Linked DNA regions of Homo sapiens. The protein of the gene in region 1 interacts with the protein of each later gene in a pairwise test. Each region holds a gene or a part of one and is shown on either strand. Other genes may lie near its edges. The genes, in order: EPC1 and HOPX.

What was found.
Region 2: the proteins of EPC1 (region 1) and HOPX interact in a two-hybrid assay, tested with the Homo sapiens proteins (one study listed by BioGRID).

What each region holds. Positions count from the first base shown.
Region 1 is NC_000010.11:32,340,449-32,344,276, forward strand, and holds part of EPC1 (enhancer of polycomb homolog 1), read right to left. Parts: intron 1-3,828. UniProt on the Homo sapiens protein: Component of the NuA4 histone acetyltransferase (HAT) complex, a multiprotein complex involved in transcriptional activation of select genes principally by acetylation of nucleosomal histones H4 and H2A.
Region 2 is NC_000004.12:56,671,179-56,675,006, reverse strand, and holds part of HOPX (homeodomain-only protein), read left to right. Parts: intron 1-3,828. UniProt on the Homo sapiens protein: Atypical homeodomain protein which does not bind DNA and is required to modulate cardiac growth and development. Acts via its interaction with SRF, thereby modulating the expression of SRF-dependent cardiac-specific genes and cardiac development.

The DNA.
Region 1 (3,828 bases):
TATTACAGGATTTAATACACCTAATCAAGAAAGATTTTCTACAGTTTATAAATGTGTTGAAGGCAACAGTTAGCATCAATAAATTAAAAGCAATTCTAGGGCCAGGTGCAGTGGTTCTCGCCTATAATCTCAGCACTTTGGGAGACCAAGGTGGGTGGATCACTTGAGCCCAAGAGTTTGAGAACAGCCCAGGCAACATGGTGAATATTTAAAAATAAAAATAGAAAAAATTAGGCGTGGTGGTGTGTACCTGTAGTCTCAGCTACTTGTAAGGCTGAGGTGAGAGGACTGCTTGAGCTAGGGAGGTTGAGGCTGCAGCTGCAGTGAGCTATGATCGTGTCACTGCTCTCCAGCCTGGGTGACAGAGCAAGACTTTGACTCAAAAAAAAACCCGCAATTCTAGCAAGTTGTTTAAAACATTTGAATCCCTTGTCTTCTCATTGATTTCTCAGAATTTGGTTTATTCTTACCAAAAAGTTATTGTTATCAATGCAAGTCACACTTCAGTGTTCCAAAAGTCTACTTTAAAAGTAAATACATACTCTAGTTGTCTCTGAAAGTATGTCATACTTTCATATCACTTTTGCCCTTAGACACGCTCAATTCTTTTTATTCCTGAATTACAATATAAAATTCTCATTTCCTTGTGCATCTCTTCTTCTAAGAAGTACAATCACAAATGATACAATTCCATGGTATTATTGCTCCCTTAAAATGCTATCTTCTGCTTTTAACTAACTGCTGTTAACAATTAAGCATCCTTAACTTTTCAAGAAAATTGAGTAATAAATGTAATCAGAAATCACATCTTTACATACATAAAAAGGACTCTTGCCATTACTAAGTGCTTTAAAACATGGACACATGTCTGTGTGTGTGTGTCTGTGTGTGTGTATAGATTCTATGTTTCTACCATTACTACCAGTACATACCATGACACAGTAGAATGCAAAATATAAAACTAAAACCCAGCCATTTTTAACAGGATTGGTTGGTATATTTAATCCTGCCCACACATTCATGAACCTTTATGCAGAATTTTTTCTCTCGTTTACAAAATTTAAGCTACACTGTAGGCAGTACTTTTAATTAAGTCCTATTAACAGAAAAAAATGTAATTCAGTACAAATGCCATTGCTGATCATGAAAAGCACCCACAAAATACCATTAGATACATAAACACATTCAAATGGTATACTGAAACAAAAGTTAATACTAACATTTCAGGTGCATAGGCATGTAAAGTGTTCAAAAGGTCCCTTCTGTATTCAAGAATCCTTAGTCTCTTCCTGGACTGCCTGTCCTTTTTCAATTATCCTCCTTTGACTAAGTCTATTTAGTAACTGCCAAACTGAGATAAAACCAAAATGACTCAGTTTGAAATTTATGGAACAGCTGATCTTAACCCCTGGGCTTTCTGCCCCAGCCCATTACCGATACTTTGAGAAATTGATGACAAGTGTGAACCTTCTCCCTAGAAAAATATATTCTAACATTTTATAGGCATATGGTGGGAATCCATCACTTCCAGAATTATTTCCACATAATCCTCAGAACCCTAGCTTAGCAACTTTATGCAAAAATACCTTTGGACAGTATAGAAAGCTGAAACATTTTATTAATTCTCTTTGATTTTATCTGAAGTAATTGTAATCTAATGCAAAAATCCCCATACTCTCAATTCTTTTCTAATTCAAACTATCTGTAATTAGTTTGTTAAACTTTGCTTCTACTATAATTGAGATTTCATGTATTTCTCTTCACTTCCAAGAGAGTGGATAGAATGGAGAAATCTAGATTGATCTTTACAGCTCCAGATAAAGGGACTAAAAATATTGGTTTAAAATATTAAAGGTTAAAGAAAGAGACTGTTGGTTTCTTTCAAAGTGATTTAAATTTAAACTAGGTTTTTATTACTAAGTTTTGGAAATGGGGTAACCATTTTTTTCTCATATCAAGGATATGTACATATTTCCCATTTCCCCATAATTAAAAACAAACAACTCCCATCCACTTCTTATAAATAGTTCTTAACTTGGGCTTAGTAACAATGTATATTGTGCCAGTAATACAGAAAAGGTGGGAGTATAAAGACCATCCTGTCCTGTTAGAATCCTATAGAACCAAGGTGCTGGATTATGGTGGTTAGATCCTACTTGTAACAGTTTCAAAGGTGACTGTAGGGTAGTATCAATATGAAAACATCATTAACATCTTAATTACACCAAATCTCCTCCCCAAACCAGTCTAGGTAACAGGAGAGGAAAGGTTAAGTTGCCACCCCCTCATAAATGGAACAACGCACCCTAGACAACCCAATGAAAAGTTAAACTACTGTGGAACAGTAGCTCCATTTTGCTAAACATCATTTTAAAATCGACTTTTTAAAAGTGATGTTTCCATAAAGGAGAATTGTTAACAACATAAAGCTCCAATTTTAATCAAGAGTCAATTTTAATAAAAAGATTTGATAGTATTAATCCATTTGGTAAGTTTAACCTTTCAATAGAATGCGAAGCCGTAGCACAAGATTTAAGATTATAAAGATAATTAAATTATAATCTTAAAGTTAACATTGTAAAATATTCATAATAGGACATATGCCCCACACCAACCAAGCACTTGTTTAAACTTTTATCTTTTTTTAAACCCCAAAGGGACTCAATTATCTCAGAGCTGAAAGTCTATTATTTCGCTGTGATTTAAGTCACATCTGTACTTCATTAAATACATTGTTTTCATCATCCGTTACTTTATTTTTAATTAAATTATTTTTTCTGAAACGAGTTTCGCTCTTCTTGCACAGGCTGTGAGTGCAGTGGGGGGATCTCAGCTCTCTGCAACTTCCACCTCCCGGGTTCAAGCGATTCTCCTGCCTCAGCCTCCCGAATAGCTGGGATTACAGGCAGCTGCCACCACGGCTGGCTAATTTTTGTATTTTTAGTAGAGACAGGGTTTCACCATGTTGGCCAGGCTGGTCTCGAACTCCTGACCTCAGGTGATCCACCCGCCTCGGCCTCCCAAAGTGCTGGGATTACAGGCGTGAGCCACCGCATCCTGCCAATCTGTTACTTTCAGACTTAGCAAATTTCGATGCATTACATTCTGCGAATTCACATTTAATCTCTAACATCTTTGACCCAGTCAAATCCTTCAATTTACCACAATCTGAAGTTACTTTTTCAGTACTACTACAATTAAAAAAATAGATAAGTTCAGTAACATTTTCTGCCTCCAAATTATTTTGGGGGGGGGGTGTAAGGGCTTCTACTTAAAGTTGTTTCTTAAAAAGTCTGCCTCGTTAGGCCCGTGTGTGCAGCTCATAGTATTAAAACTGGTTAAATGGGAATACACGAATAATACTTATTTTCCCAATGTTAAAAGACCTGGATTTCTGTCAAGTATATCCAGAAACAACGTAACAATTACTAGGTGTATTTCACATGACAATTCTGCAGATTATTTTGATCAATAAAATGCTTTAATCAGGTGGTGTATAAAAAAACTGCCCTCACCTTTCAGGACCAACATAGGACTACATACTTTTTTTTCTAAGACAGTCAGTTCAGGTTCTAGGTTACAGTGACCTAATAAGATAACAAATAACTAATGTGTCAGTTAAAGGCAGAAGTTTGCTTTAACCCTTCCTCTTTATTAGAAGTACAAAATACTTCCGCACATCAAAAAGTTTGTTTTTCTATGGAGAATCCAGAATTCAATTACCTTTATGTTTAATATACCTTTTCAACACTGCATAACACACTACTTTCAATATTATGATTTACACACCCTACCACTAACAGCATGAACCACAGGACTGTAAAGCAG
Region 2 (3,828 bases), on another chromosome or scaffold:
TGGTTTGTGCCTATAATCCCAGCACTTTGCAAGGCAGAGGTGGGAGGATTGTTTGAGCCTCATCTCTACATTTTTTTTTTTTTTTTTTTTAGTTAGCCAGACATAGTGGCACACACTTGTAGTTTTAGCTACTTGGGAGACTGAGGCGGGAAGGTTGCTTGAGCCCAGAAGTTCGAGGCTGCAGTGAGCTATGATCACGATGCCACTGTACTCCAGTCTGGGCAACATAGCAAGACCCCATCTCTAAAACAAACAAATAAATAAAAAGTAGAGAAGTTAATTTTACCCATCTCCACATAATTTCTTGTAATTTGCTTCTGGTAGTTTTGATAAAATGTGACCAAACATGAAAACAGTGCCAGACCTTTCACAAATGATCTACTCTGTCCTTGTATGTTCAGAAAGAAATGAAACAAAAACCTGAGGCAGACATTGATCAGTTCTAATCTCTTAGTGTATACTGGGCAGGAAACCAGTGGCAGTCATTTTGGCTGTTAGGTCTAGTCATTCCATCTAGGATCATGAGGAAAATTTCCTAGGATTCTTAAGGTCATGACAGATCTGCTTAGATAGTCTAGTCGTTGTTGATGTATTTTCACTTCTTCCTTGTGGCTTCTCCCTAAGGAAATGTACATAAACAATCTTCCTTAGCCCTGATATCTCCATCAACCCTTTCCAGATTTTCAGTTTGCTGGTGCCAGGAGTGAAATCTGTTTTACAAAAAACTTTAATTCAGTGGCTAATATTTAATTTAATAACTAATGTTGGAAGTATCTATCACTTTATTGTATATGCCTTACCCTCTTCCTGGGACATAGACTAGCATCTTTGGAGATGGCTGGAACTGGGATTTATGAAGCAGGAGGGAAGAAAGCAGGAGGCCACCCCTACTTTCATTAATACACTGTACCTGGCTCAGGGTTCCACAGCTGAAAAGGGAGGAGAGTCCTTGGAACTAACTCAAGAGTTAAACAATAGTTGACTAAACAATAGTAAAATTAGGGCTGGGTGCAGTGGCTCATGCCTGTAATCCCAGCACTTTGGGAGGATGAGGTGGCCGGATCACCTGAGGTCAGGAGTTCAAGACCAGCCTGGCCAACATGGTGAAACCCCGTCTCTACTAAAAATCCAAAAATTAGATGGGCATGTTGGTGCATGCCTGTAATCCCAGCTACTCAGGAGGCTGAGGCAGGAAAATCGCTTGAACCCGGGAGGCGAAGGCTGCAGGGAGCCAAGATCACAGCACTGCACTCCAGTCTGGGTGACAGAGCGAGACTACACACACACACTCAAATCAGATCTATAAGGAACACAGAAAGGCCTGATGTTATTTAGCTTGGACAAGAGAAGGCTATAAAGCCACTGAATGATGGTGTTGAAAAGCATGGAAGGATGTCGTGGAGGTCAATAACCAGCTCTTCATCTTGGCTTTTGAGGAAAAAATCCAAGACCAAGGATTGGTGGGGCTGCAGTATAAAGGACATTAAGTAAGCCATGAAGTACTCCCCTCATTATACAAAAAATATAGTGGAAAGAATTAATTACACAGACAAGCTCTGAAAGATGGGGCAGTCCACCAATCTTTTATTTTTTAAAGCCCTTTTTTTTGTTTGTCTTTAGGCGTATGATGAGTTAACATAGTCCTTAATTCATGGCATACACAAGACCCCCTCTTAGGTTTTATATCTCATTCCATTTCTCCTGCTCTCCCACTCTCCCTCTTTTCTCTCTTTCTTTTCACTGAACACTATAATTTTAAGATGTATCTATGTTGTTGATGATATTTCTAATGCATTATTATCAATAGTCTGTTAATTATATGTATCTTTTACTTATTGACTCCTGCAGTAATGGACATCTTTCTTGCCTCCAATTCTCTGAAATGATGCTGTAATGAATATTCTCATATGTTTGTTCTACCACCCTTTAGATCTGGTTCATGGGAAACAGAAAGGGAAAGGAGTGGGCTAGAGGTTTTATGTTTTATTCACACAGCATGGAATATTGAACTGTCCATGATAAATGGAGGCATAATGTAACCAGTTAGTATTTCAAACATTTACAAGCTTCTCCATGTTCCCTTGTACTTTAATAAGAGATTGAGTGACAAATAATTTTCTAGAACTAAAAGAGCACAATCTTCAGTGATCTCCCCTTCTCAATATAATTTTCTTTTCTTTTTTTTATTAAAAAAATTTTTTTTAGCCAGTCAGGCTGGGTGCGGTGGCTCACACCTGTAATCCCAGCACTTTGGGAGGCTGAGGCAGGCAGACAACCCGAGCTCAGGAGTTCGAGACCAGCCTGGCCAACATGGCAAAAACTTGTCTCTACTAAAAATACAAAAATAGACAGGTGAGACTCCATCTCAAGTAATAATAATAATAATTTTTTAGCCAATCAAATTTAGCAGTGGGTGGTTGCATTCAATGTCATCTTCTTTTCTTTCTTTCTTTTCTTTTTTTTTTTTTAAGACAAAGTTTTGCTCTGTCGCCCAGGCTGGAGTACAGTGGCATCATCTCGGCTCACTGCAACCTCCACTTCTCGGGTTCAAGCGATTCTTGTCCCTCAGCATCCAGAGCAGCTGGGATTACAGGCGTGTGCCACCATGCCTGGCTAATTTTTGTATTTTTAGTAGAGGCGGGGTTTCTCCATGTTGCCTAGGCTGGTCTGGAACTCCTGGCTTCAAGTGATCCTCCCACCTCAGCCTCCCAAAGTGCTGGGATTACAGGCATGAACCACTGTACCCAGCCAAATGTCATTTTCTTAAACTTGGCTTTATAAATTCTAGAAGCATTTTATTTCTCGATATTGGTTACTGATTACCCAGAAAAAGCAAATGAAATGTTCTAAGAAATCTTATTAGTCATGAGGTTGAGTGAAGTTTCTAAAATGTTTTGCCATTTTAATGATTGCAAAACCTGATGTCATTTTGTTGCCCAATTATATCCTGAGTCACTGGGAAAGCTAGATTAGAACCTTAATAATGGTACCTTGTATTTATGTAGTGTTGATAATTTATAGTGCCATTCATAAACATAATCCATCTCATGGAATCCTACAACATTGTGTGACAGGTGGGGCAGGTTAATAGCTTCAATAGTAGATGATGAAATGGACGTCTAAAGCAATTAAGACAGTTGTCCAAAGTTACCTGGAGACTATGTGATAGAGCTGGAAGGAGACTCCGGGTCTTCTGAAGCTTCACTCAATCTCTTTCTGCAGTATCACGGCTGATGCTCAGAAAAGTGATCTATTGTAGGTTCAAAGCTGTCCCCTGAGCTGGACATTCTGGTGTATCTGTCCTTTTCAATTATTTCGTGATGTTAATGAGCTGGCTAAAGCTGCACACCCTCTGTTTGTCCTATTAGCTGAACACCTGCTCATAAAAACCACTCAACTGGGGAAAAAAATCAGGTCCATATCACTGAGTAGCATGGCAACAAGCAGCATGGGTGGTTGGACTTTGGCATAATTTGGAGCTCTGCAAGGTACCAGCTGTGGGTCATTTTATCCATGACCTAATTATAGTCATAAAATAAGAATGGTAGTTGGACCATAAAAATAATAATCTATTAATATATATTTATGCAAAGAGATAATTCCATTCTGTCAAAGACTCTTTTCTGGACTTTTCAAAATACACAACTAACCTGAGGAAGTTCTGTCTGCTTGCAGTAGACAGTCTAATGGCCTAAGGAAAGGCATGTGATTGGGCAGCCTGAAAATCTACCCATGGTGCATGTGCAACACCACACAGGTCTCTGATGTATCTTACTATGTAATTTGAGCTCAGGCAAAAATACCGTAGAACCCAGCATATATTTTCAA